Linked DNA regions of Homo sapiens. The protein of the gene in region 1 purifies or fractionates together with the protein of each later gene. This does not show direct contact. Each region holds a gene or a part of one and is shown on either strand. Other genes may lie near its edges. The genes, in order: HSD17B12 and AFG3L2.

What was found.
Region 2: the proteins of HSD17B12 (region 1) and AFG3L2 fractionate together in Homo sapiens (co-fractionation; one large-scale study listed by BioGRID). This does not show direct contact.

Annotation. Positions count from the first base shown.
Region 1 is NC_000011.10:43,840,989-43,844,808, forward strand, and holds part of HSD17B12 (very-long-chain 3-oxoacyl-CoA reductase), read left to right. Parts: intron 1-3,820. UniProt on the Homo sapiens protein: Catalyzes the second of the four reactions of the long-chain fatty acids elongation cycle. This endoplasmic reticulum-bound enzymatic process, allows the addition of two carbons to the chain of long- and very long-chain fatty acids/VLCFAs per cycle.
Region 2 is NC_000018.10:12,349,654-12,353,473, forward strand, and holds part of AFG3L2 (mitochondrial inner membrane m-AAA protease component AFG3L2), read right to left. Parts: intron 3,506-3,820; coding exon 3,352-3,505; intron 1,761-3,351; coding exon 1,653-1,760; intron 1,558-1,652; coding exon 1,432-1,557; intron 1-1,431. UniProt on the Homo sapiens protein: Catalytic component of the m-AAA protease, a protease that plays a key role in proteostasis of inner mitochondrial membrane proteins, and which is essential for axonal and neuron development.

The DNA.
Region 1 (3,820 bases):
CAGTGTGCAGAGTTCCAGTTTCTCCACATCTTCACCAACACTTGTTATTTTCTATTTTGTTTGTTTTTTATAATAGCCATCATAACGGGTATGAAGTGGTATCTCATTGTGGTTTTGATTTGCTTTTCCCTGATGATTAGTGATATTGAGCATTTTTTCATGAGTTTATTTGGTCATTTGCCTATCACCTTTGAAGAAATGTCTATTCCAGTCCTTTGCATATGTTTAATAAAATCGTGTTGTTTGGTTTCTTGTCATTGGGTTGTAGGAATGATCTATATATTCTGGATGTTGTCCCATTTTAGATACATGATTTGCAAAGATTTTCTCCCACTTCGTGAGTTGCCATTTTATTCTGTCTTTAGTCTGCATAATATCTTTTTATTCACAAAAGTTTTTAATTTTGATGTAGTCCAGTTTATCTATTTTTTATTTTGTTGCTGGTGCTTTTGGTGTCAAATCCAAGAAATGCTTGCCAAATCCAGTGTCATGAAGCTTTTCCCCTGTTTTCCTGTAAGAGTTTTCTAGTTCTAGCTCTTTGATCCATTTTGAGTTAACTTTTATATACCTTTGAGTTTATTATGTAGCTAGCAGATATAATGCTGTGAAAACACAAAATATGAGAGAAAGCAAATATAGGAGTTTTGATGGTTGGCAATTTCAAATTAACCATTCTTCAATTGAAAGAAATAGTATTTCCATGCTCAGGCACTTTTAAAAAATGTCTTGGGAGAAGTTGCAATTTGTACCTCTTTGCTGCTCCTGCCTATCAGCTACCCCACCTCTGTGCACGTCTGGTGTTCATTGTGGCTTTCATTCCTGTGAGGCAAGTATTTCACTTTTTGTATCCTGAAGCCACAAATGATCGATCAAAATAATAATAGTGAATATTTGAGTGGATACTTTTCAGGTACAGTGCTAAACACTTTAATATGTATCATTTCACTGCATCTCATAACAATCTCATACAATGGTGTGATGATGATTATTATTATTTTTAATTGCAGAAATTGGGGCTTAGAGAGGGTAAGCCACTTGCCCATGTTGAACTGGGACTCAAATCTGGGTCTGTTTGGCACTAAAGCCTTTGTTCTTAACCACTAGGCTACTTGCTCCAGGCCTGTAAGTCAACATTGAACACTTACTGGATCCATCTGTGCTCAGGGAGTGATGGAACCAGAAGGTGGTTGGTTAGTTCCATTTCCTCCTTTATGCCTGTAGAGCATCAAGATGGGTGTAAATGTCATGTAGATGTAGCTTCTAAACCTTTTTATTGAGTAGATACTGGTGGGAGCTAAGTCACCTACTGTGAGATAGAATGGTAATGAAAGGAAGGGGGGATGACTGTTTCCTCATCTTCCAGGATCATCTAAGAGCCTGCTTCCTCTAAACCCCGACCTGAGCTTTCATCCAAGGGAAGCTTAGATGTCATAGCCACTTGGTGTTATTTCTGACTTGCAGCTTCCCATATGTATAGGTTTCATTCGGAAGGACATGTGTTCTAGAATCCTGGATTTTATACTAAATTACTGTACTCTCTTTTTCCCCTTTCCTTGACACCAGTCATTTTAATGTTAGTAATGCGAATGTTCTATGTAGAATATGTTGTATTTTAGTAACAAGGACACCAGTAAAATGTTCTTGAGAAGCTATTACATTCCATGAGAAGGTATTCATGGGAAGGTATCACATGCCAGGCAATGGTATACCATTTTCTTTCTGATGAATCTAATTGTAATTACACTATTAACTGAATAGTTTGTAAACACCTATTGCGACTAGGCAGGAATCCTAAAAAGGTCCATTGGTGATTGACTATAAGCAGAGTGACCAGAAGCTGTAAGTGTCTCAGTGACAGAAGGTAGCATTAGGCCTTGTGAACAGACAATCAATTTCTAAAATTCCGTTAATAAGCAAGACTGTCTCCTCTCTCATTCTCACAACTTGTTTCCCTCAAAGATCTTTTCTCCAGATTTTCCACCTAGTAATCTGGTGTGACTAGAAGCTACTGTAAAAACACATTAGCATTTGTCTTCTGAAATATTTTATTTTGATAAACTTTTGTTTTTCCCTAATAATGAAGTATAAACTGTCATTTCATCTGTCATTGTGTTTTGTCATATGAATTCATTCAAGGTTTAAACTTTGAATGAATTTGATGAAAAAATAAAGACTCAAATGTTTGTGAGGGAAAGCACAGTCGTCATTCTGTGTGAATACATCAGAATGTTGAAGTAGAATAGAAAGAGAACCTCTTATTAATTCTGATCAAAGGGGCAAAAAAAATGTAGTCTAAATGAAGCTCAGAGTTAAAAATGATTGGTTTTTCTTTGGCGGTGTTTATGCCCACAAATTTTTTGGACTAGGAGTATTTATCAGCTGATTCTGCCTCGTACTCCAGCCCACACATGTTTCCTGGGTGATCTTATTAAAATACAAATCAGATAATGTTGCTTTCCTTCCTAGTCCTCCAGTGGCTGCCCATAAGGTTTAGGATTAAATTCGAACTCCACAAGGCCATCTCCTTTCTTGCCACTCCATTGTCCTCCCCGACGTTCAGGCCAGAGTGGACATCCCAGTGTCTAGTACATGCTCTGCCCTCTGAAGTGCCCATGACTGGCTCCTCTGTTGGCATCCTTTCCCCAACTCCTCTCCAGTTCTTCTCACTGTATCTCCTCCCAGCCCTATTTGCACCTGAACCCTATGGCTGCTGTCCCTCTCTCAAGGCTTGGGCCACAGTTCCCCTGCCCTGGAAAGCCTTCTCTCAGCTCCTTGGCACATTTGGTTAGGCCTTTCTTTGGGCTCTCGTTGGAGCTCCTTGTATACCTCTGCCTGCTACTGTCTGGCCCTTCCCTGTCTCCCCACTTCCATGTATTCTCGAGAACAGGGCTTTTTATCTTATTTGTCTCTGTGTTGCTGGCGGCACTTGTTGTTTGTGGTAAACGGGAGACCCACCTTTTCCATGGCATCACAGAAAACTCTGGTTGTGCATGGTCAAGCTTTGTGGTACACAGGCATCTGTTTTGATGGCTTTTTGAGCTTCTTCTATTGCTCCCATATGCTCCTGGCCTTGAATTTTCAGCCTCTTTATCTGAATGGCTTCTAGACTAATGCTATGTGGCCATGTTTCCATTTTTTTCTAAGCCTTGCAAAGAATGCTATCTTTTTAGGTCTACCTCCGTGTGAATGTACATCAGATTGCTCTTTTGGGGAAGGAAGAGGGTATATTGTTCAAATTCTAGATTGTTTCAGATTACTTCTTAATATTTTTCTTTTGCATTTCTCTCCCCATCTTTCCCTCAACTTCTTAACTTCTTTCCTATAATTTTATAAGATCATTTAAAATTGCCTTCAAGAATTCAGATTTGCCATTATATAATCATTTCCTGGGAATGCAAAAACACAGTAACAACAACAAGTGATGTAAATGCCCTGGAGGTGAATGATGGGCCTGAGAGACTATTTGATTTTGAACAGAGGATGAGAAGCACATTCTCAAGGAAACCTTATCATAAGTGTAGTCTGTTGATGAGGACTGTTTGTTCTCATTACCTTATAATTAAAGTCCAGTCAAAAAAAAAAAAAGACACTTGTGTCTTTCAAAAGGCAAAATTATTATAAGTAATTTGACTGGCTAGGTAGTGGGCCCTAGCCCTGGGCTCCTTCTGTCTACCCTGTACTGACTAGCAGTTAATACTGAGCAAGCAGGAAGTAGCTAAGACTAAGACTAAATCCTAAAACTATACCTCTTGAACTCTTATTCTGCAAAATTTTCATAAGCCTTCTGTTTTTAAAAAAATTATTTGGAAATAATTTCAAG
Region 2 (3,820 bases), on another chromosome or scaffold:
CACATGTTTTTATTTTTATTTTTTTGAGGTGGAGTTTTGCTCTTGTCACCCAGGCTGGAGTGCAATGGCGTGATCTCAGCTCACTGCAACCTCCACCTCCCAGGTTCAAGCGATTCTCCTGCTTCAGCCTCCCGAGTAGCTGGGATTACAGCACCCCCACCACCACGCCCGGCAATTTTTGTATTTTTAGTAGAGACAGGGTTTCGCCTCATTGGCCAGGCTGGTCTTGAACTCCTGACGTCAGGTGATCCACCTGCCTTGGTATCCCAAAGTGCTGGGATTACAGGTGTGAGCCACCGTACCTGGCCAAAACCACGTTTTTATATAATATGTACAGAATAAAAAAACCTAGAGAGACAGAAAGTTTGATTGTCTTGAGATGGAATCTTGCTCTCTCATCTGGGCTGGAGTGCAGTGGGGTGATTTAGGCTCACTGCAACCTCACCTCCTGGGTTCAAGCCATTCTCCTGCCTCAGCCTCCCGAACAGCTGGGATTACAGGCATGCACCACCATGCCCGGCTAATTTCTGTATTTTTAGTAGAGACAGGGTTTTGCCATGTTAGCCAGGCTGGTCTCGAACTCCTGACCTCAGGTGATCCACCTGCCTCAGACTCCCAAAGTGCTGGTATTACAGGTGTGAGCCACCGTGCCCAGCCCAAAATGTTTTAAAATTATAGTGATGGTTGTACAACCCTGTAAATATACTAGAAACCATTAATTGTACACTTTATACGGGTGATTTTTAGTTAACTTTATTTCAATAGAGCTTTTAAAAAAACGCTTAGGAATAATTCCTACAATATTTATAGAAAAAAATGATACACTGTCAAGAATTTTTCACAAAATACTCCCGAGGAAGCAGAAAGAGAAGAGGGTATAGATAAAAGTAAGGTCAGATGTGAATTAGTAATTGTTCCTGAAACTAGGTGACAGGTACAGATGGGTTCATTACACCATTTCCTCAAAATCTGTGTATGTTTGAAATTTCCCATAATAACAAAGTAAAAATAGTCGGGCACAGTGGCTCATGCCTATAATCCCAGCACTTTGGGAGGCCAAGGCAGGAGGATCACTTACAGCCAGGAGTTTCGGGCCAGCCTGTGCAACATAATAAGTAAGACCCTGTCTCCACAAAATCAAAAAATTAGCTGGGCATGGTGGTACATGCCTGTAGTCCCAGCTACAAACAAGGCTGAGACAGGAGGATCACTTGAGCCCAGAAGGTTGAGGCTACAGTGAGCTATGATTACACCACTCAGTCCATCCTGTGCAATTAAGTGAGACCCTGTCTCAAAAAAAATAAAAATGAGAATATAAACTTAGGAAGCCCACAGTAAAGAAGTGAAAAGGTAAGAAAGTAAACCGGTACCTGGTAACTGTTACTGATTTTAATATGCTTCTAAATAGGGTCCTCGTTATTTTCCACTCACCTGAAAACCCTGGAGTTAAAGATGCCAGTTTTCTTGCCAATTTATCCTTCTCCAGGGTACTGTCCAGTTTTAGCGGTCGGAGATGAACTTTGAAAATAGAAGCTCTTCCTTTTATGTCTGGTGGTCCTTTAGAAATCATTTTTAAGGAAAAGAAAATCATATTGAAACAGTCACACCTACACTCATGAGCACTGGACCTGCCCCAGCAAACATCATCTCACCAATAAAGATCTGCCTGTCGAAACGCCCCGGCCTAAGCAGCGCGGGGTCCAGGATATCTGGTCGATTGGTGCCGGCCAAAATGACGACATTTGTTGTTGTATTAAAACCTGAAAGATAACAAAAATGCAAACACTATTAAATGACAAGAGGCAGAAAGCAACAGTGCACCATCAGGAACATATGAGCACTGCAAATTCATAGCTACAGTAAACACATTTTCTATTCATTATCTAGTGTTTTTTGTTTTTTTTTTTTTTGAGACGGAGTTTCACTCCTGTTGTCCAGGCAGGAGTGCAATGGCGTGATCTCAGCTCACTGCAACCTCCGCTTCCCAGGTTCAAGCAATTCTCCTGCCTCAGCCTCCCGAGTAGCTGGGATTACAGGCATGCCCCACCACACCTGGCTAATTTTTGTATTTTTAGTAGAGATAGGGTTTCTCCATGTTGGTCAGGCTGGTCTCGAACACCTAACCTCAGGTGATCCACCCGCCTGGGCCTCCCAAAGTGCTGGGATTACAGGCGTGAACCACCGCCCCTGGCCTATCCAGTGTTTTTTAAGTTACAAACTTGAATTATTTTTTTACTATTCAGCTCGTCCTTGAAAATAATCATATATTAGACTTAAAAGTTTTACGAGTAAATTTCCTAAAGACAAATGACCAAATATTTAAATTTAACTAGAAATTTAACAGATAATGTCAATTTTAAAAATGTCTTAAAATCAGATTAAATTGGCAAAGGATGTGTCTGACACCCTGGGCCACAGGACAACCAACTGCCTATCTGAAGGCAGAGATCAACCTCTACCTCCCACCTCTTCTCCACACTCAAATGGCTCAGTGTTACTGCCCATTTCTCAGTGTAAATGCCATGGTCCCAGGCCCTTCACCCTCAGGACCCTGGCACGGCAGGAGCTCCTGGGTGAATTTCCCTCAGATGTGGTGCTCCAATGTGAACGCAACAGGGGCTGACCATCGCGGGACGGAGGAGGCTTTCTACCTCCTTATTCTGCCCCTATGCCTGGCTTCATCATTGAAGCCAGTTCAGTACTGGCACTGTGCTTCCCCTTTCTGCACAAACAACCAAGCATCCACATTTTTATCTTCCAGCAGGAAGAACACATGACATCCTGAGAAGTGGCTTTCCTAAATGAAATAAAAGCTGGCTAGCATGGAAAGACTGCTACTCTCTTAGTAAAAAAGTATTCAAAATTTGCTAAATTCACACTTGGTTAGGCTTAGATTTTCCTTATGCTTCAGAGATGGTGATGATTTAGAGAATGAGATGGTAATTCTTTTGTGACTCATTTCACCAATTCTTCTCTTATTCAAACACCAGACACAAACAGCATGTTAACACCGATATTAAGTTATGCAGGCTGCCAGGAAAAAATATTTTGCTATTATTTGTATTAGTATAAAAGGGCCTTTTAAAAGAGCTGTTTGTTTTAGGGAATGCTTTTTTTTGTTTGTGATACTCAATATTGGAATAAGGACTCTCATTTTGGGGACATGAAAGGCATAAAAAGTGCAGCTTAAACTCAGGAGACTGAGGCAGGAGGATCGCTTGAACCCAGGGGTCAGAGGATGCAGTGAGCCGAAATCACACCACTCACTTCAGCCTGGACGACAGAGTCAGACTCCATCTCAAAAAAAAAAACAAAAGTGCAGTTAAAGATACAAAAGCCTTGACCACTCACCATCCATCTCCACCAGCAGCTGGTTGAGTGTGTTCTCCTGCTCACTCTGCCCTCCAAAGTTGCCTCTTCCTCTCTTCCTTCCCACCGCATCGATTTCATCGATGAAGAGGATGCAAGGGGCATTCTTCCGAGCAAGGGCAAATAAGTCTCGGACCTTGGCAAAAACAGAAAGAGAGTCACCTGACCAGAGAATATTATGTATTCTCTGAATAAGAAATGAAATAAATCGGCCGGGCACAGTGGCTCATGCCTGTAATCCCAGCACTGTGGGAGGCCGAGGCTGGTGGATCACCTGAGGTCAGGAGTTCGAGACCAGCCTGACCAACATGGAGAAACCCCATCTCTACTAAAAATACAAAATTAGGCAGGCATGGTGGCGCGTGCCTGTGATCCCAGCTACTCAGGAGGCTGAGGCAGGAGAATCGCTTGAACCTGGGAGGCAGAGGTTGCAGTGAGCTGAGACTGAGCC